Linked DNA regions of Homo sapiens. The protein of the gene in region 1 purifies or fractionates together with the protein of each later gene. This does not show direct contact. Each region holds a gene or a part of one and is shown in the gene's direction. Other genes may lie near its edges.

Region 1 (9,206 bases):
CCCAGCTGGTCGGGAGGCGGTGGGGGGGGAGTGCTGAGGCAGGAGAATGGCGTGGACCCGGGAGGCGGAGCTTGAAGTGAGCCGAGATCGCGCCACTGCACTCCAGCCTGGGTGAAAGACAAAGACTCCGTCTCAAAAAAAAAAAAAAAAAAAAAAAGAAGAAGAAGATATACAAATGGCCAACAAACATATGAAAAAATGCTCAACATCACTAATGATCAGGGAAATGCAAATCAAAACCACAATGCAATACCACCTTACTCCTATAAGAATGGCCATATTCAAAGAATCGAAAAACCGTAGATGTTGGTGTGGATGCGGCAATCAGGGAACACTTCTACACTGCTGGTGGGAATGTAAACTAGTACAGCTGCTATGGAAAACGGTGTGGAGATTCCTTAAAGAACTAAAAGTAGAACTACCGTATGATCTAGCAATCCCACTACTGGGTAACCACCCGGAGGAAAAGAAGTCATTATTCAAAAAAGATACTTGCACATCCATGTTTATAGCAGCACAATTCACAATAGCAAAATCCTGGAACCAATCCAAATGCCTATCAATCAATGAGTAGATAAAGAAACTCTGACATATATATATATATATATATATATATATATGAGTTTTATATATATATGTTTTATATATATATCAGTGTTTCATATATATATATATAATCTTTCTTTGTCTTTGACTTTCAGCAATGCAATTAAAATGTGCCTTGGAGAGAACCTGTTTTATATATATATGTATATAGATCTCTCTCTCACCATGATGCCCATATATGTATATATGATGGAATACTACTCAGCCATAAAAAGGAATGAATTAACAGCATTTGCAATGACCTGGATGAGATTAGAGATGATTATTCCAAGTGAAGTAACTCAGGAATGGAAAGTTAAACATCATACATTCTCACTGATATGTGGGAGCTAACCTATGAGGACGCAAAGGAATAAGAATGATAAAGTGGACTTTGGGGACTTGGGGGGAAGAGTGGGAGGGGGGCGGGGGATAAAAGATAAAAGACAACAAATATGGTGCAGTGTATACTGCTCAGGTGATGGGTGCACCAGGTTCTTACAAATCTCCACTAAAGAACTTACTCATGTAACCAAATACCACCTGTACCCCAATAACTTATAGAAAAATAAAATTAAAAAAATAAAGGAACAGGGAAAACTACCTTCATTAGCAGACAATACATATGCAAAAAATTCCAAAGCATCAACTAAGAAACCATGGAACCTAATAAATGAAATCACCAATGTTGCAGAATACATGATTAAAAGATAACAATTGGTCGTATTTCTATACATTGATGATGAAAAATTCAAAATTAAAATTCAGTAAACAATTCTATTTAGAATGTCAAAAAAACCAAAATGCTTAGAAATATAAATTACCCATGACATGTAAATCTTATACACTAAAGGCTACAAAACACTTCCCCAAGAAAGTAAAGACCTAAATAAATGGATGTAGATCCTTTATTTGTGAAATGGAGGACTTAATATTGTTAAGATGGCACACTACCCAAAGTGATAATCAAATCACTGCAATTCTCTCTCTTTTTCTTTTCTTTTTTTTTTTTTTTTTTTGAGATGGAGTCTGACTCTGTCGCCCAGGCTGGAGTGCAGTGGCACGATCTCAGCTCACTGCAACCTCGGCCTCCCAGGCTCAAGCGATTCTCCTGTCTCAGCCTCCTGAGTAGCTGGGATTACAGGCGCACGCTGTCATACTTGGCTAATTTTTTGTATTTTACTAGAGACGGGGTTTCACCGTGTTGCCCAAGCTGGTCTCGAACTTCTGAGCTCAGGCAATCCACCCGTCTTGGCCTCCCAAAGTGCTAGGATTACAGCCACCGTGCCCAGCCCGAATCAATGCAATTCTTATCAAAAATTTTATGGCTTTCTTGTAGAAATGGAAAAGTGGGTTCTAACGTTCATTTGGAATTTCAAGGGATCCCAAATAGCCGTACAATCTTGACTAAGAGGAACACAGTTGGAAGACTCACACTTCACAAATACTATCTTATAACCCATTATTTAAACTGACAACAACTTAACACTGCTTCCATAAACAAACAAGAGAAAGAAAACTAATAAAGACTCTATACTTTAACTTCATTCCCGCCACTTTTTAACTGATAATTGCTGTGCTTTCTCTCACCCCATGCACAGAAATGCTCTGTGCCCCATACCTGCAACCGGGAGATGAAGGAGGAGTGGCATCAGTGATACAAGTGTTTTTCCTACCCCTTCAGCGCCTCTTTCAGTGATATAAAGTTAAAATCAGTTACTGTGAGTGCTCACCTGATTTTTTGGTTCTTATAAAGGTGATCTTTCTCTGCAGATACTTGTTAAATTGGTGACCTTGGTGGGGGCAGGGGGGATCATTGGAGCCTTCTATTCCACCATCTTGTTCTGCCACCCTCCTCTCTTAATTTTTATTCTCTCTGAACGATTTTATTTCTCCTTCATTTCTGAAGGATAGCTTTGCTGAGGGTAATGTTCTTAGCTGACAGTTTTCTCTTTTAGTAATTTGAATATATTATGCCATTCTTTCCTGGCCTGTAAGGTTTCTCCCGAGAAATTCTCTGTTAGTCAGATGGGGGTTACCTTATATGTGACTTGACATTTTTCTCTTGCTGCTTTTAAAAATCTTTCTTTGTCTTTGACTTTTAGCAATGCAATTAAAATGTGCCTTGGAGAGAACCCGTTTAGGTTGAATTTATTTAGGGTTCTTATAGCTTCCTGGACCTGGATTTCTATCTCTCTCCCAAGATGCAAGAAGTTTTCTGCTATTATTTTATGCGTCTGATGGAAAAGTTGCCTCTTCCAATTTTATGGAGTAGATTTTATAAGCGAAAACTTATTTTTATGAATGGGTCTTTAGGTGTTAGTTCATTTGAGTTTGTTGGTTTTTGTTGCAGGTGTATGTAGCAGTATTGTTTCCATAGAGTTTCTTCACCTATGATCCACACTTGTGGCACTTGAGAGTTTCTCAGCGCCCTAGTTGAGAGAGTGTGCTGCTACAGTGGCATGGCTTTGCCAGTGCTGTGGTTCCAGCGCTAATTCTCAGGTCAGGGGTGTGTGCATCCACGTGGTAGGTAATTCAATTAAGGTATGACTCAATGGTATTGGGGCCAGGGTGCTGTTATCCTGGCTGGAAGCATGGGCACATGTTTGTTCAGTCAGTGAGTGTGACTACAGGCTAGGGGTGGCCTGTGAAGCTGTTTCTTGGTTTCAGGACGTGGAAGTACAGCTTCTCAACTGGTCTGAAGACATGTCTGCCAGGGTCAGTCTACTGGGCTTTTTCTCAGGCCCAAGATGTGGGTGTAAGGCTGCTTGGATGGCCTACGAGAGGAAGGGAATGAGAGAGGAAAGAGGGCTTTTTCTCAGGCACTTGACACAGCTGCATGGCTGAGTGGCTAGGCTTTGAGCATTTCTGTAAGGGGTGGCCCAAGAAGATATTCTGTAGGCCTAGGGTGTAGGCATGGAGCTTCTTGGTTGTCCTTCATGTGTGACCACCAGAGGCAATCTGTAGGACTGTTTCTCAGACCTGGGACATGACCACATAACTACTTGGCTGGCTTGGGTATGCCCACCAGGGGTGGCCCATGGGCTGTTTCTCAGGTTTGGGAAATGGGCTCTCGGCAGCTGGGCCAGCGTGGTGTCAAGCCCAGCAGGGGAGCTTGTGAGTCTGTTTCTCAAGCTCTTATTGGGAGTATAGGGCCACTGAGCAGGCCATGGATGTGTCTCTGGAGGGAGAGAGTGTTACAGGGCTATTTCTCAGGTACTCAGTGTGGACACATAGCCACTGTGCTGCCACAGGGGCATATAAACTGTGTCAAGCTCAGTGACCTGTCTCCTACTTGGTGAACTTTAAAATATTCTACTATTTTTTCCTTGTTTATTTTTTATCATTTGATATTTTCCCAATCATGATACCACATCTAAGATGTATGCAGCACTATACCATGTTTATGCTTTCCAAATTACCGATTTCTGCTTTCATCTTTATCAATAGATTTATTTTTAATTTTGAAATGCTTTTTTTTCAAATTTCATTAAATCCAATCATGATATGAGTATCATAATCACATGTTGTGCCTAGTTTGCATTTTCCTGCTTTGTTTTTGCAAATCTTGTGCACCTTTGTTTTATCTGTATCTTTTGGACACTAGATTAGTTGGAAGTTTTGTTCTTGATCCATAAGTAAGATTAATATTTCAGACTCTTGTTTGTTCCGGTAATCTTGGAACACAACAGTTCCTGGTATTTCCTTAAGGGAAGTGTAAGGAAGATTATAGTGATTAGCAGGTACAGCAATAAATTTGTGTTCAGGAAAACTTTACTCTTTTCTTTTGGGGTCCCTGCCATAAGGAAATACTTACTGCCCTTAGGGCAAACAGATAAAACTGGTAAGATCTCAGAATGGCTCATAGAGAAACCACATAGCTCACATGCTTCAAGTTTGATGGCATAAGTAGCATTTTTTCCTATGGTTGGCCTTTCCCCTCTCCCCTTCCATATAGCATTGCTTACAGGAAGGTTAGGATTTTAAGAGAGAATAATAGAAAATAAGTTTCCAAGCCGTCCTTTCTCCAGAACTACCCTCCACAGTGTTCTGAATGCATACAGGGTCACTGTTCAAATGTTGCTGCTTCTCCTGTTGTCTTCTCATAACAAGGACTTTTTCAGTCAAAGTAAAGAAACTGGCCGGGTGCAGTGGCTCATGCCTGTAATCCCAGCAGTTTGGGAGGCTGAGGCGGGCGGATCACGAGGTCAGGAGATTGAGACCATCCTGGCTAACACGGTGAAACCCCGTCTCTACTAAAAATACAAAAAATTAGCCGGGCGTGGTGGCAGGCACCTGTAGTCCCAGCTACTTGGGAAGCTGAGGCAGGAGAATGGCATGAACCTGGGAGGCACAGCTTGCAGTGAGCCGAGATGGTGCCACTGCACTCCAGCCTGGGCGACAGAGCGAGACTCTGTCTCAAAAACAAACAAACAAAAAAAACAAAACAAACAAACAAACAAACAAAAAACCTTCCTTGGATTTTTCAAGAAGTTTTCACAATTGCAAAAAAACAAAACAAAACAACACAACACAACAAAACAAAACAAAAGCAAAAAAACCCTATGCTTCCACCCAAGGTAAAAATTTTAGCTTTAGGTCCACTCTCAATACATTATTTAATGAACTGAAGTTGGCAAATATTCCTCACAGCCTGTTGGAGGGTTCAGCAGTTTATTACAGAAGTATGAAATGCTTTTATTTAAAAAATGTATTTTGGTAAATACATTTTTGTTTAGGTAAATATCATCAAATAATCCAATTTGGAAACCAACATTCTTACTTCTTTTTCCAACAGTTGTTCCTATCATCATAAAAACATGTTAAATTTTTCTCATCCTTTCAAAAAATCTCTGGAGCTTACCTCACCCTCCAGATACAGCCTCACCTCTCATTCCACCATGAAATCAGACTTCTTGAGATGGTTTCAGCTGGACTCCATCCTTCAACTGACAACCCAACACAACTGTATTCATCTCTCGTTAACATTACTAGCAGTGAGTAACATCAGAAAGTTTTTGACACATGTTAGTCTTTTTTGTGATGAACTTCACAGATACATTTGACATTGGTATGCCTCATTTATTTGTTGAAATTTTTTTCTTTGGCTTCCATGAAGTTTCTTTCTCTTCTGTATCATTCTACTTCTATGACTGCTCCTTCTCGAGTAAAACAGAATGTGTCTCAGGATTACTTTAAAACAAGACAAAGTATAGAGTTATACCTAAAATTTAGTATTTAAGTTATTGGATCAGAAAGGAAACTCGCATTTAGAGTATGAAGGCATTGTCAGCCACCAATTACTTTTGTAACCTGAAGCTAGTCTCCTTCCTACTCCGGACTGAATTTCTTCTGTATAATGCAAGCGATCTGGCATGATGATATACAAAGACCGATAAAATTTTGCTGGGGATTCTGAAAGTAAAAAAAATTGCCTTTGATATTATGTCCCCATGCTAAGTCCCTGGGGACTTTGACATTATCCCCCACTGAGCAGGGGTGAGGAAGCTGGCATTTACTAATAAGCTATGAAAGGGCAGTGCCTTTTGACATTTCAGCTCCACCCATAGCACACCCACTCAAGGAACATATAAATGAAGAGATCCGCTCAGTTCTCAGACAAGATTTTTCAAGCAAGATGAAGTCCATCATCCTCTTTGTCCTTTCCCTGCTCCTTATCTTGGAGAAGCAAGCAGCTGTGATGGGACAAAAAGGTGAGTGGAGAGGGTAAGCCTTGGGGAAAGCTACTTTAAAAAAATGGCCTCTAAGGATATTCAGGGTGCAAACAGTAACCTGTTCAGGCACAGATTCTTCTCCTTGATGAGAATTGATTTTTCTCCACCCAACGCTGTAGGCTTTTGGAAATATCAGAAATTTGTTGGGAAAAGGTGGGAGGTAAGAGTTGCAAGAGAGCTTTGGAGATAATGAATGCATACATTTCTATTATCAATTACCAGGTGGATCAAAAGGCCAATTGCCAAGCGGATCTTCCCAATTTCCACATGGACAAAAGGGCCAGCACTATTTTGGACAAAAAGACCAACAACATACTAAATCCAAAGGCAGTTTTTCTATTCAACACACATATCATGTAGACATCAATGATCATGACTGGACCCGAAAAAGTCAGCAATATGATTTGAATGCCCTACATAAGGCGACAAAATCAAAACAACACCTAGGTGGAAGTCAACAACTGCTCAATTATAAACAAGAAGGCAGAGACCATGATAAATCAAAAGGTCATTTTCACATGATAGTTATACATCATAAAGGAGGCCAAGCTCATCATGGGACACAAAATCCTTCTCAAGATCAGGGGAATAGCCCATCTGGAAAGGGATTATCCAGTCAATGTTCAAACACAGAAAAAAGGCTATGGGTTCATGGACTAAGTAAAGAACAAGCTTCAGCCTCTGGTGCACAAAAAGGTAGAACACAAGGTGGATCCCAAAGCAGTTATGTTCTCCAAACTGAAGAACTAGTAGTTAACAAACAACAACGTGAGACTAAAAATTCTCATCAAAATAAAGGGCATTACCAAAATGTGGTTGACGTGAGAGAGGAACATTCAAGTAAACTACAAACTTCACTCCATCCTGCACATCAAGACAGACTCCAACATGGACCCAAAGACATTTTTACTACCCAAGATGAGCTCCTAGTATATAACAAGAATCAACACCAGACAAAAAATCTCAGTCAAGATCAAGAGCATGGCCGGAAGGCACATAAAATATCATACCCGTCTTCACGTACAGAAGAAAGACAACTTCACCATGGAGAAAAGAGTGTACAGAAAGATGTATCCAAAGGCAGCATTTCTATCCAAACTGAAGAGAAAATACATGGCAAGTCTCAAAACCAGGTAACAATTCATAGTCAAGATCAAGAGCATGGCCATAAGGAAAATAAAATATCATACCAATCTTCAAGTACAGAAGAAAGACATCTCAACTGTGGAGAAAAGGGCATCCAGAAAGGTGTATCCAAAGGCAGTATTTCGATCCAAACTGAAGAGCAAATACATGGCAAGTCTCAAAACCAGGTAAGAATTCCTAGTCAAGCTCAAGAGTATGGCCATAAGGAAAATAAAATATCATACCAATCTTCGAGTACAGAAGAAAGACGTCTCAACAGTGGAGAAAAGGATGTACAGAAAGGTGTATCCAAAGGCAGTATTTCTATCCAAACTGAAGAGAAAATACATGGCAAGTCTCAAAACCAGGTAACAATTCCTAGTCAAGATCAAGAGCATGGCCATAAGGAAAATAAAATGTCATACCAATCTTCAAGTACAGAAGAAAGACGACTCAACTATGGAGGAAAGAGCACGCAGAAAGATGTATCCCAAAGCAGTATTTCTTTCCAAATTGAAAAGCTAGTAGAAGGCAAGTCTCAAATCCAGACACCAAATCCTAATCAAGATCAATGGTCTGGCCAAAATGCAAAAGGAAAGTCTGGTCAATCTGCAGATAGCAAACAAGACCTACTCAGTCATGAACAAAAAGGCAGATACAAACAGGAATCCAGTGAGTCACATAATATTGTAATTACTGAGCATGAGGTTGCCCAAGATGATCATTTGACACAACAATATAATGAAGACAGAAATCCAATATCTACATAGCCCTGTTGCTTAGCAACCACTTGAAAAGCTGGACCAATAGCAAGGTAAGTTTGCTTTTCTTACCAAATAGGAGAGGTGCCTGTCCCAAAGTTGGGGACTCTCCAGGAACATGGTAGGACTGATAACCATTGTTCACATCAATAGAAGTGCTATATTACAAGTGGTGGGAAGATGAACACCATTTCCTGGCGAGTAGAGGACCTGGTAGTGGCAGGGAAGGCTGCTTGGACTATCACTGGGTCCTAGAATTCCTATTCTTAATTGAGTATTCTTCAATAATATTTTTATACATGCCTACCTGCTAAAGATTTTTTTGAACATGCACTGACTATATATGCATATTTATGAGTTTATGGTATACTCTTGTCAATTCTTATACTTTAGATTAGTAAACCTCAAATTCTTTCTCATATAGTATGAAATATTACAGCAGTTAATATTTTCTTTCTGCACATACATGAATGTTCTTGCATCCCTGTTAGAGTTCATCTATGCTCCTTCAGAGACCACAAGCCCAAAGACTAGCAGTCCACTCTCTCTGAATATAGGAAAGATATGAGTAGAAAGAAGGATTCCTGTTCAGATTGTGAAAAAGGAAGTGGAAATGGAGGTGCAGGAGATGCTGAGAGATCTCAGGTGCTAACTGGACACTTGCAATGTCAGGAGAGGAAAATTTTAACCTGGATTGGGGAAATGGTTCTTCCATGCCCCTTTGCAATAAGTAACACTGTACCTGAAGAGAGGGTAAGCAGCAGAAACAATGGTCCCAGCTGATAACTAGTGACCTGGTGTCCTAATGATCAGGGGGCTGGTGCAGTTGACGCTAAAGGGGACAGGGGTCCCAGCTCTCCCATCCTCACCCCCACTCTCCACTATCCTCACATATCTGGTTGTCTTTTTTCTCCCTAGGTGTCACCCGACCTCAGTGAAGTCTTTGATGTTTCTGAGAGGCAGACTCCCATGTGGTCCCAGATCCTTGGTCCATGGATGA
Region 2 (5,313 bases), on another chromosome or scaffold:
TGGCTAACTCCTAGTACAACAGGCTTCCCAGTGCACTAGTGTGGCAGAATTTTTTTTGTGTGTATGACAGAGTCTTGCTTTGTCACCCAGGCTGGAGTGCGATGGCATGATCTCGGCTCACTACAATCTCCACCTCCCAGGTTCAAGCGATTCTCCTGCCTCAGTCTCCTGAGTAGCTGGGGTTACAGGTGCCTGCCACCAAGTCCAGCTAATTTTTGTATTTTTAGTAGAGATGGGGTTTCACCATGTTGGCCAGGCTAGTCTTGAGCTCCTGACCTCAAGTGATCTGTCCACCTCGGCCTCCCAAAGTGCTGGGATTACAGGCATGAGCAATTTGAAGGAGAAACAGAGCAGAAGCGACACCTGTTGGGGGTTGTGGATCTGTTTGTTTCTGCAGTCAGAGATCAAAAGGATGTCTTAGAATGGTTGTCCCAAGTCATTAGCAGTGATCAGAGGCTGTGGCTAACTTAGCAAATTTTTAAAAATGGTTTTCTTCTGAAGTAGAAGAAACAGTTTCTTTTCTTTTTTTAACTTTAAATTCTTTTTTTTTTTTTTTTTAATTAGAGATGGGCTCTCACTATGATGCCCAGGCTGGTTTCGAACTCCTCCTGGGTTCAAGCAATCCTCCTGTTTCAGCCTCCTGTGTAGCAGGAACTGACTTCAGGCACACACTACCATGCCCGGAAAAACAGTTTCTTTTCTATTGACGTAGGGATCCGTGGTTCTGAAATGTTTGCTGAGATGGATTTGAGGGCCATAAAACCTTACCAGACTCTGATCAAAGAAGTCGGGCAGAGACATTGCGTGGACCCTGCTGTCATCGCAGCCATCATCTCCAGGGAAAGCCATGGCGGATCTGTCCTGCAAGACGGCTGGGACCACAGGGGACTTAAATTTGGCTTGATGCAGGTATTTAGCTAGAAACTTTCTATCAGCCCCACTGCATCCCTCCTCACAGAAGCTCAACCTGAACTAGAAATCCATTTGCAGTGCTTCCAAGCCCCAAAATACCCTGGCATCTGGCTACAGGTACTCCAGCATAATTTTTTTTTTTTTTTTGAGATGGAGTTTCATTCTTGTTACCCAGGCTGGAGTGCAATGGCGTGATCTCGGCTCACTGCAACCTCCACTCCCGGGTTCAAGTGATTCTCCTCCCTCAGCCTCCTGAGTAGCTGGGATTACAGGCACACGCCACCATGCCCAGCTAATTTTTTGTATTTTTAGTAGAGACGGGATTTCACCTTGTTGGCCAGGCTGGTCTTGAACTCCTGACCTCAGGTGATCCACCCACCTCAGTCTCCCAAAGTGCTGGGATTACAAGCTTGAGCCACTGTGCCCGGCCACTCCAGCATAATTTGATCTGGGATTTCTGTAACACATCTTTTTATTTTATTCAAGGCTTATTCATTATTAGATATATTTTAAAAAGTATTTTAGGAGTTTCATAACTACCATTCTGCAATAAATAATATGTAATACACTAAAACTGAGAAAATCTTATAAATAGCATTATTGTTACAGGTGTCCTCTTGGGGTTCATGAAGTAGTAAATTTCATCCATGTGGATCAAAACATGGTATAACTGTGCCCTACTTGAAACAACTTGTTCCTTTGGGTAAACTGGAGGAAGGGGATCCAAATTATCTGGATATTTGCTTCCAGGCTCGATTTTAAATTGTCTGTAGAAATACAGACTTCTGGCCTTCCCAGTTAGAAACAAATTTTTATCTGAATTAGCTGGATAATTATTTATTACTATAAATGTGTAGACTTTGGGTGTTATTTGTTTCAAAACAACTTAAATTTTTTTTTTGTATATTAGAATGTTTAGCTAAAACTATACCATGTCCATTTCTCCCAAACCTTACTTTGTTTCTCTGACTCTCATCTATATGAAAGAAAGAACAATAGAATTGACTCTTTGGGGATAAAGGCCGGTATCTATGACTTGAATACCAGGAGAGGAAATTAGGAATGGCAGAAAAAATGTGTTACCTCATCCAGATGCTGACTTTATTATCTGAATTTTCTAGCTTGATAAACAAACGTACCACCCTGTCGGTGCCTGGGATAGCAAAGAGCACCTTTCACAGGCTACTGGGATTCTAACAGAGAGAATTAAGGCAATCCAGAAAAAATTCCCCACGTGGAGTGTTGCTCAGCACCTCAAAGGTAGGCTGTATTCTGAGTACTTTGTTTAAATGAGCAATGAATGAGACCACTGAAGGCCAGTGTGACCCGAGACTCCCTGGGAGCATTTCCACGGGGTCAGCAGTGGCCCTGGGAGGAGCTGTCTAGAGGCTGCATTTGCATTCCCTGAACCACTGAGTTACTTTGAGAGGTCCTCCATCCTCAACCTCCATTTCCTCTTCTGCAGAATGTTGGGGTTCTTATTCATTGCTTACTGAGCTATTGAGTGATACCTTGAAACATAGTGAGACCCTGTCTCTACAAAAAAAAAAAAAAAAAAAAAAAAAGCTGGGCATGGTGACACACAGTCCCAGCTACTCAGGAGGCTAAGCCAGGAGGATTGCTTGTGCCTGGGAGGTTAAGGCTGCAGTGAGCATTGATTACATCACTGCACTCCAGCCTGGGAGACAGAGTGAGACCCCATCTCTCAAAAAAAAATTTATCTATCTATCTATCTATCTATCTATCTATCTATCTATCTATCTATCTGTTTGCCTACCTCTCATAGGTTTTTTCCTGTTATAAGAAACTGTCAACAACTTTCCAAATTGTCTGAACAATGTTACTCTGTGAGTATTTTCGGGACTTCAGGTGCTATATATCCAAGTGGAAATCTCTGCTTGGCTGACCACAGGCCCCCTCAAGTTCAGCATCTCCCAGATGGAATTAACTCACTAACTTCCCACTATAAATTTGCTCTTTCTTCTGCATTTTACATGTCTTGGAGGCACCATAATATAGCCAGTCATCCCAGCCTGAAAACCAGATTGCTTTCTTAGGCTCTCTGGTTCCTTCTCTCTTCACACCCAACCACATCAATTCCTATTAGGTTTGCCTCCTATTGGCCAATGTTATGTCCTCCACACTCTAACGGCCTTAATCAGAACAGTTTCTAGTCTCTACTTCAAGGTCCTTGAAGGCAGGGATCAGGACCAGGCATCTTCCTCTCTGGATATCAGAGCAGAGCACAATTATGTTAAACACATACATAACTACTAGAGATAAAATTCTAGGGTAAAATAGCACACACATGCATATGTACACATACCCAAAGAAATAAGTGTGTCTTGGGTACCTTGCAGTCAGTGTGGCACCTCTCCTGGCACATAGTAGGTGCTTGAAAACATTTCCTGAATGAATAAATGAGTGAGTGAATAGATGAGTGAATTATTGAATAAATGAGAGAATGTTACAAGCATTTTCAGCAGAGGATGTACTGGGAGTCTAGTTCTGCCAGGCCTGGATTACATAAAAAAGCAAATCTGATTTTTGCAACAAGAAAAACCAAAGACTTTGGAAAAAGAGAAAGAAAGCAATCTGGAATTTTCCCAGTGATTCTTGGGATAGCACGTCCTTTCAGAAAGGGAGGGAGAGGGAGGAGGATTTGGGACTGCCTGCTTTGGAAGATTTGCCTGGAAAGCTAACATCTTGGCAATGCTCATTGCTTATTTCTGTTGAAAGTTAATATTTGAGCCTAATTCTCTGTGTTTCATTTCAGGTGGTCTCTCAGCTTTTAAGTCAGGAATTGAAGCGATTGCCACCCCATCGGACATAGACAATGACTTCGTCAATGATATCATTGCTCGAGCTAAGTTCTATAAAAGACAAAGCTTCTAGGCAAAGCTCTGTGGGTGGGCCAGGTTGGCAGAGTGCTCAGATGGCCGCCTTTGAGAGTTTTACGTGAATGTGTTGTATACAACACTGGCAAAGAAATGATTAAAATCATGAAAGAAAATTCATTTCCCAATTTTCTGAATGAAAATAAGCATTGAAAAAAGGAAAGAAAAATAAAAGAAATCCATCCAGTTCACAATATGGTTCCTAGGAAACGGACATAGACATATATATAATTACTTTGCAGTAAATGTGAATATCATGGCAAATGGTCCCTAGGTATTCCAGCCAGGCTTCATTTTAGCCTGTGATTCCAATGCCCACCTACTCCCTGTCTACCAGAATTGCTAACAAGTTAAGTAAGCCTTACCCGAGCCTTTGTCTTTTTTCCAGTATCTGCCCAGAGCCCTCAGGCTTTGCTTATGAGAAGTTCCTGACTCGTAAGCCAGCCAATCCATGGGACAATGGAAGAAATAGGGATGGAATTCTAGCTTCATGGGAAACTGAGAGCCAACTGAGGTGAAGCTGTCATTCAAGTTAGATACACCAAGTCCTTCAAACCCACAGCAACCTCCTGTGTTTTCTTTTGTCTGTGAAGATCCAGGGACTGGCTTTTCTTATTTTCAGCAGTTGCTGCCACACGCTTTCTTTCACGGGGTCCATCCCTCACAAAACATGGCTGAAGATAAGCATGTAGGACCCAAATCAATTATGGTTCTTTGGTTGCAAGCAAAAGTAACCACTTATAGAAATTTTAAGCATTAAAAAGAAATTACTGGAAGGCTAACAGAACAAACTAAGAAGGTCAAGGAGATGAAGAGACACCAGGCAACTCTGGGGTCTGGGTAGCAGGAATGGGTTAACCATACTTTACAGCATCCATAGTAAGCAAATGAATTAGCACCCTCACCAGTATCCTCATATATGTACTCCAAACACCTGTTTCTGATTATGTCTTCATTCTGCGTCACTTTCATAGTGCCAGGAGAGGTTCGGAGCTATTTATCTTGGGTCACATACAAACCTACCCTTTGGCTATTTTGCTACCTTGGTCTTGCTCACACTACCTACAATGGAGAAGAGACAACTCTCTGGAAGGAAACTGTGTGCTGTTTGTGGCCTTTACTTCCATAGTCAGGAGAGGACACAAGTGATAACACGTTGGAGTGTAAAGTGGACGTGTGACACTGTGGCCCTGCTGGGCCTTTAACTCCCTTTGGAGATGTTCAATGAATGTTTCAGTCCATCACTTCTGTTTCTGAGAAGGAATCAAAATCATACACACCTGCCTCTGAGCCCTCTTGGAGAAAGCCAAGTAAATCCTTCTTTGCCCACTGACCTCTCAACCCAGCCTGAATATTTGACCCAGGCAGCACCAGGAATCCTTGTTTCACTGGGCAGGGCCAATGGTCAGTTTGTGTGGCAGGCCCTTAGCAGGTAGGCCAGCAGCTTCTATGACTGGTTGAGGCCCATGCTGTACCAGGTGTTAAATATTTTTATTATCCTCCC
Region 3 (7,747 bases), on another chromosome or scaffold:
TTGTGCACATGTTTTTGTGTGAACATATGTTTTCATTTTCCTTGAGAAAATACCTAGAAGTAGGATTGCTAAGCCATGTGATAAGTGTATGTTTGATTTCATAAGAAACCACCAAACTGTTTTCCAAAAAGGCAGTATCATTTTGCATTTCCAAGGAAATATACGAGAACTCCATATGTTGCACATCCACATATGCAGTTGGTATTTTTAGTTTTTATTTCATTTTTTTCCCTTAGGCATTCCCTCCTTGGGGAGGGGATATAGTGGTATCTCATTGTTTTTCATTTACATTTTCCCAGTGGCTAATGATATTGAGCATCTTTTCATGTGTTTGTTTACCATCTGTCATCTGTAAATCTTTGGTGAAGTGTCCAAATTGTAAGCCCATTTAAAAAAATTGGGTTACTTGTTTCCTTATTGTAGAGTTTGAGGGCTTTATATATTCTGGATACAAATCCTTTTTCAGTGATGTGACTCACAAATATTTGCTTCCAGTTTGTGGCTTATCTTTTCATTCTCTTAACAGCTTTCAAATAGAAGTTCTTAATTTTTGATGAAGTAAAATGAAGTACAATTTTTCTTTTTTCTCTTTTATAGATCATACTTTTGGTGTCATGTATAAAAAATTTTGGCCTTACTGAAGGTCCCAAAAAAGGTCTCTGTTTTCTTTTAGAAGTGGTATAGTTTTAGATTTAGGGCTCTGATACATTTTAATTTTCATATGTGGTTCAAGATATGAAATAAGGTTCATTTTTTTTTCATATATATGTCCAAATGTTCCATCACCACTCATTGAAAAGATCATCTTTTTTTCCCACAGAATTGACTCTTTACTTTTGTGAAAATCATATTGACCACATATATGTGGGTCTATGTCTGGGCGGTCTCTTCTGTTACACTGGTTTATACTCTGCCCTTTCTTGAATGCCACAATGTTTTGATTACTTTAGTATTATAGTAAGTCTCAAAATCAGATGGTGATTGTTTTAGCTATTCTAGATGTTTGCCTTCCCAGATAAATTTTAGAAATAATTTGTTGATTTTGATTTTTAAAATCCTGTTGGGATTTTGATTGGTATTGCACTGAAGCTATACAATGGGTTGGACAGAACTGACATAACAATATTGAGGCTTCCAATCCATGAACATGGTATATCTATCGTTTAGCTCTTCTTTGATTTCTTTCATCAGCATTTTGTAGTTTTCAATATAGAGATCTTGCATATACTTTGTTTTATTTATTTATAACTAAGTATATAAAAGGCTTTGGTAATAGTGTAAATGATAGTGTTTTTATTTTGATTTATAGTTGTTTATTGCCAATATTTAGAAATATAATTGATATTTGCATGTTGACCTTGCATCCTGCATCTTTGCTAAACTCACTTTAGTTCCAATAGTTTTCCTATAGATTTTAGGGGGATTTTCTATGCAGACAATCATGTTGTCTGTGAATAGACATGGCTTCATTTATTTTCAATCTGTATGTCTTTTATTTCTTTTGTCTTACTGCAATGGCTAGGACCTGTAGTGCAATTTTGAATATGAGTGGTGAAAGTGGACATCCTCAGTTTGTTCTTAATCTTACAAGGGGAGCATTTAGTCATTCACCTTTGAATATAAAGTTAGCTGCAGCTTTTTTGTGGATCCCATTATGAGGTTGAGGAAATTTCCTTCTAAATTTGCTCAGAGTTTTGATCATCAACAAATGTTAAATTCTATCAAATGGTTTTTCTGCATCTATTGAGATGATCAGATGCTTTTTCTTCTTTAATCTGTTGCTGAATTACATTTATTGATTGTGGAGTTTTTAAACACTTTTTCATTCCCAGGATAAACCTTACTTGGTCATGATGTATTATTCCTTTTTGTGGAATTGATTTGCTAGTATTTTGTTATGGATGATGGTATCTATGTTCATGAGGAGTATTGATTGTAGCTTTTTTTCCTCACAAAGCATTTGTTTAGTTTTGGTATCACAGTAATGCTGGCCTCATAAAATGAGTTGGAACTGTTCTTTCCTCTTCTATTTTCCAGAACAGTTTGTTTACAATTGGTATTATTTCTCCATTAAATGTTTGGTAGAATTTGCCAATAAAGCCATCTGGAGTTTAATTTGTTGGAATATCTTGAAGCAATTACAGTTTCTTTAATAGATATAGTGCTATCCAGGTTATCAATGTATTCTTGAGTAATCTTCAGGAGTTTGTGTCTTTTAAGGGATTTGTTCATACCATCTAAGTTGTACAATTTTTGGATAAGAGGTGTTTGTCCAGTATTTCCTTTTTAATATTTGTAAGATTTTAGTGATGTCCTCACTTTCATTCTCAGTATTTTTAATGTGTCCTTTTCCCTTTTCCCTTGGTTAGTCTGTCCAGAGATTTGTATTAGTTATCTATTGCTGCATAACAAATTACTCTAAACTTAGAGTAATTCTTGGATCAGGAATTTGGGATTAGTTTAACTAGTTGGTTGATTCAGAATCTTTCATGAGGAGGCAATCAAGATGTCGACTGGAGCTGCAGTTTTCAAAGGTTTGACTGGAGCTGGAGGATCCACTTCCAAACTTACTGATATGGTTGTTAACTAGAGGGTTCAGCTCCTGATCATGTGGATAAGACATGAAAACTGGCTTCCTCCAGTGAGTAATCCAAGAGAAGAGGGTGACAGAGTATCTAACACAGAAGTAATGATAACCTAATCTTGGAATTGGAATGCCAGCACTTCTTCCACATGCTATTGATTTCGCATACCAACCCTTATACAATGTAGGTAGGAACCACAAAGGTTATGAATACCAGGAGGTGGGGATCATTGTGGGCCATCATGGAAGCTGGCTACTACAGAATTTATTGATTTTATTGATCTGTTCAAAGAATCAGTTTTAGATTTCTTTGACTTATCTCTATTGTACTTCTATTCTTGATTCCTGCTCTTTCTTATGTCCTTCCTTTTGCTTACTGTGGGTTTTATTTGTTTTTGCTCTTCTTTCTGTTCTTGCTGTTCTGAGCAAAGAAGGCTACTAGCTGTTGTTTTTTAAAACGTTTTTGCAGATAGATAAATCTTACCGAGAAGATGTGTATGATCTCTTTCCTGGGACATTCCAAACCATTGAACTGTTTGCAGATCACCCAGGGACATGGCTGCTACACTGTCATGTGTCTGACCACATCCATGCTGGCATGGAGACAACCTACACGGTCCTTCGTAACATAGGTACGGTTGTCTGTCAGTGATGCCAGATGATGGCACCGAGCTTCCTGTAGACCCCCAAAACAGGAGGCATGACAAAAACCCAGATATAGCCCTCAACAAGCTCAGAGTCAAGTAAGAGAGACATATATGTAAATATGTAACTATAATCAAGTATGCTATGTGCCGTAGCAGAATGCAGAGTACAGGGCTTAATAGCAGCAGTAGGAGTGAATGGGTAACAGTTGGAGGATATGAGCCAAAGTTTCACAGAGGCCATGATGCTCCAGATAGACTCAGTGGGTGAGCAGAAGTGGGAAAGACAGCTGGGGCAGGAAAGCATGTACATGGGAATGAAGTAGCACAGTAAGAATCCAGAAATGATTGGCAGATACTGATGGGATAAGTCCTCGCTGGTGAAATGAAATGACTAGTGTCATGAAAAGAATCCCCTTCTGTTGTTAATAAAACAATGAACTTGTTTTCTTTGTGCAGACAACAGGATTCCTTACTCCACCACATCTCCTGGAGTGGCATCTCACCCAGCCACGGTGCCATCTAACGGTAATGATACCCTCTCCCCATGTAAATGAGTCAACATTTCACCCCTCAAAAATGTCAGGGGCCTGACAAGTTTATCTTTTTCACAGAACGACCTGGCAAAGAGCAGCTCTATTTCTTTGGCAAGAATCTGGGTCCAACAGGAGCCAAGGCAGCCTTGGTCATCCTTTTCATCATTGGACTCCTCCTTCTAATCACCACGGTGATTCTCTCCCTCAGACTCTGCTCTGCAATGAAGCAGACAGATTACCAGCAAGTCCAGTCCTGTGCTCTCCCCACGGATGCTCTGTGAACCATCTGGTCTCCCTCAACAGGAAAGGGTGATGTCCCACAGCTGGCCAGATGGCAGCCAACAGGGAAACTGGACCAAGGCATCACTCACCAAGGAAGGTTGACACTGTATCCTGGATCAGCCTTCTGATCCTCTCAAACATCATCCAAAGCAATTTGCTTTTATTTATTTATTTTTAAATGGGCTGCGAATAATCCTCAGGTATAAAACACAGAAAAAGGAGAATGGGCATGGCTGAGAATGTCAACTCTTAGTCTATTCTTTGGTTGGATTCACTGAATAGGAGACACTCTGAAAGATATCTTTATATTCCATCTTTTATAATTCTTGAACAGTGCTTTCTTAGCTAACCACCAAAGTTTCTAGGTGAACAGCTTCTAGAAAAAGTTAGAGTGCCTCAGACATTTAACTGGAAGGGCACTACTTTTTCAACATTGTTGCATAACATGCATCCCTTGGTTCTGTGGAAAATATCTTTCTTAGGAGTTCTTGGCAATGTCTAAGTCAGTGTCTGCTGATAGAATTAGACCAAATAAATTTTTTGGAGGCTTTAACCAGCTCTCCTGGCCTTTTCCTCTTTGATATAAATAGCCTGTGCAGTGCTTGTTTTAAAAAGCAAAGTTATACGTTTTTTAAAAAATTGCTGCTGTTTTTATTCAAACCTGTAGAAATACTTGAATGTTTACAACTCACTTCATGTTACATGTTTTTACAATATGTTTCTGTGGCAATGTTTGTACTTTCAAAAATCAAGTAGAGAAATTGTATTTCTACTGCAGACTGTGGGAGGGCTGAAATCTGTAAAAGAACATGTTAGGCTCTCCCTTTATGAATCAGGGACTCCCTGAGAGTTTAGAGCAAGCTTTCTATCAGGGAGGGAAGCTTTGCAGGAGGCAAGTCTGGGCTTGAATTTGGAGTCTGATTTTTCATTCAGTTAGAGGGAATCTTTACAAGTCCTCATCTTCTATGAAATTATAACATTCTCATTGTATGAGAAACATCAGGAGGAATTTATCAATGTAGGTGACTAGATAGGAGAAGGGACCTCTAAATATCCTAGATTCTATGGCTTTTAAAGACATACCTCTTCATGGAAGGAGAAAAAAGGAAAAGGAAAGGTGAGAAAAAGATAATCTTGGTGGCAGATTCTCTTAAACCATTAAACCAGCTTTGAAAATTAATAAATAATTTCCAAGGTTCAAATGCAAAAAAATTATTGAACAACTAAACTCAACCCATTATGAGGCAATCTACACTGTCCATACCTATGCTTAGACAGTAGGTGTAAGATTGATAAAAGTAACATTGTTTATTACAAGACTGAGAAATTGCTTTTAGCTCTGGGCGAGATGCCCTGAGATTCCAATGCCAATGCTAGATGAGTGATACTGGTATGCCTGCCTTAGCAGTGGGTAATTTGAATGTCAAAGTGAGTGACAAGGACCTAAGAAATATTCTGGTGGAGGGACCTTTCACACTGTCTCATCTTCATCTTCATGAGGGGAAATGGGTAATTGGATAGAAGCTATAGTCTTAACATAAAAGGGGATGCAAATGCTAATAGTTCTGTTCATAGTTTGCTTGAATGTCATATCAAACAGCATACACAAAAGATTTTGAATTTCAATCTGCTAACCATTGACAATGTGATTTCATAGTACATGTTCTACAGTTTTCATACATGTGTAGGCTGCATAATTTCATAATTATGGTAAATGCCTTATTTATTACCCACCTTAGTAAGACAAGTTGTTCAGTTGTTTTTTTTTCTTTTCAGTTTATTTTTTTAATGAAAACAAAACCACAAAGTAGTTTGATTGCATCATTTATCATTTTAATAAAGTGTCACATAAGGTGGCTATTTGCATGGTTATTTTCACTTAAAATTATCTATCACTGAACTAGGGGAGGTGGTTAAAGTGGAATTAATTTTTAGATATTTAGGGGCTATGACTATGCCAATGACACTTGTTAGAGGAAATGAAACAAAATAGTGTATCTCCACAAATAATATGACTTCTCAAACATTGTTTCCTCAAACATAACTACACTCCTTGTTCTCAGCCTCACTCTTGAGAAAATCAACTCTGCCTTCACTTACACACATATTTCTTCCTATTACAATACACGTGTCCCTGCTCCTAGCAGGACAGTCTCTTCATTTGACTTTGGGTCTCATTGCTTCTTGCTTTCTCAAGACTTCATTCCCTTGGGTATCCATTTTTCCTCCTGCATCTTTCTATGAAACCATCAGCAATGTCCGCCATTAAAAACAGAAAGCAATGTGCTGTCTTATTTAACTCTATAACCCCCTCCGACACAGTTTCTCTCTTCCTTTGATAGCAGAACATAGAGGTATTCACACTTGGTGCCTGTACTACCTCACCCCATGCATTCCTCAGCCCATTCTGATGGCTTTCAATCCAGCGTGCCCAGCCCCCACACCCCAATCTGCTGTGGTAGAGATCACCAATCATGATGCCATTTCCAGTGGCTTCTTCTCCATCTTTATCTTACTCAACCTCTCAGCAACAAGAAACAGCTCCTTCCTTCTGAACACTCGGAGTCTCTAGTCCCTTGGCTCTGCAACATGACTCTCTGCCAGCCTTCCTTCTTCCTCAATGACTATTCCTTCTCAATCTCTTTTTCTAGTTCCTTCTCTTCTGTCTGACCTAAATGTTAGCATGCCTCAGAACTTGACACTGGGTCCTTTTTCGCTTTTTACCCTCTGTGGTAGGCTGAATATTGCCCCAAAGATGTCATGTCCTAATCCCTGAACCTGTGAATGTCACCCTATGTGGCAAAAGGGACTTTGCAGGTATGATTAAGGATCTTGAAGATAGGAAATTTATACTGGATTATCCATAATGGCCCTATATGTAATCATGAGTGTCCTTATGAAAGAGAGGCAGTGGGAGATTTGGCTACAGAAGAAGGCAATATGACAACCAAGACAAGATGCCATGCTGCTGGCTTTGGAGATGGAGGAAAGGGCCATGGGCCAGGGAATGCAAGGAATGCATCTCCAGAAGCTGGGAAAGGTAAGGGAAAGGATTTTCCTCTAGAGCCTCCAGAGAGAGGTTGGCCTTGCAGATATCTTGAAACTGATTTTGGACTTCAGAGGTCCAGAACTGTAAGAGAAGAAATGTGTGCCAACAAGTTTGTGGTAATGTGTTACCAGCCACTCCATAGTTTATTTTATCCATCCTTATGATCGGAAAACCATTTTTATGCAAACAAATTCAAAATGTATTTCTCTAACCCTGACCTTGGGCTGCAGATTCACACAAATCCTGCTTGAGTAGGGCCACTGCAGCAGTCCCCAAACCAGCCTCTCCATCATCACTACTGCTCCTTTCCACCACTGTCCACACATTGCCTCACGTTTTTCCAAATTTCATCACTTTCCTGGTTACTACCCTTTACTGTCTTCCCATTTCACTTTTAATAACATCCAAACTCTTTACCTTGGTCTTTAAGACCCAGCTTGACTTGGCCCATGCCCACTCCTCCAACTTCTTGAACTCTGCTCCAGCTTTCATCCGCTCCTATACTCTGCTAGTTCTTTCTTGCCTCAGGGCCTTTGCACATGCTGCTTTCTATGCCTGGAATGCTCTCCCTCCCTAGCTTCCTCATTCCCTCTCTGTATTAGTCGGGGTTCTCTTAGAGGGACAGAACATATATATATATATATATATATAT

What was found. Proteins that work in one complex are often made in the same cells at the same time.
Region 2: the proteins of SEMG2 (region 1) and LYG2 purify together in Homo sapiens (affinity purification with mass spectrometry; 2 studies listed by BioGRID and IntAct, with this or other methods). This does not show direct contact.
Region 3: the proteins of SEMG2 (region 1) and HEPHL1 purify together in Homo sapiens (affinity purification with mass spectrometry; 2 studies listed by BioGRID and IntAct, with this or other methods). This does not show direct contact.

The regions. Positions count from the first base shown.
Region 1 is NC_000020.11:45,215,167-45,224,372, forward strand, and holds the start of SEMG2 (semenogelin-2 precursor), read left to right. Parts: upstream 1-6,206; 5' UTR 6,207-6,223; coding exon 6,224-6,299; intron 6,300-6,542; coding exon 6,543-8,215; 3' UTR 8,216-8,259; intron 8,260-9,124; 3' UTR 9,125-9,206. UniProt on the Homo sapiens protein: Participates in the formation of a gel matrix (sperm coagulum) entrapping the accessory gland secretions and ejaculated spermatozoa.
Region 2 is NC_000002.12:99,240,858-99,246,170, reverse strand, and holds the end of LYG2 (lysozyme g-like protein 2 precursor), read left to right. Parts: intron 1-712; coding exon 713-909; intron 910-2,033; coding exon 2,034-2,172; intron 2,173-3,688; coding exon 3,689-3,807; 3' UTR 3,808-3,925; downstream 3,926-5,313. UniProt on the Homo sapiens protein: May act as a potent antibacterial protein that may play a role in the innate immunity.
Region 3 is NC_000011.10:94,107,850-94,115,596, forward strand, and holds the end of HEPHL1 (ferroxidase HEPHL1 precursor), read left to right. Parts: intron 1-3,053; coding exon 3,054-3,216; intron 3,217-3,687; coding exon 3,688-3,756; intron 3,757-3,842; coding exon 3,843-4,045; 3' UTR 4,046-6,359; downstream 6,360-7,747. UniProt on the Homo sapiens protein: Is a copper-binding glycoprotein with ferroxidase activity. It oxidizes Fe(2+) to Fe(3+) without releasing radical oxygen species. May be involved in the regulation of intracellular iron content.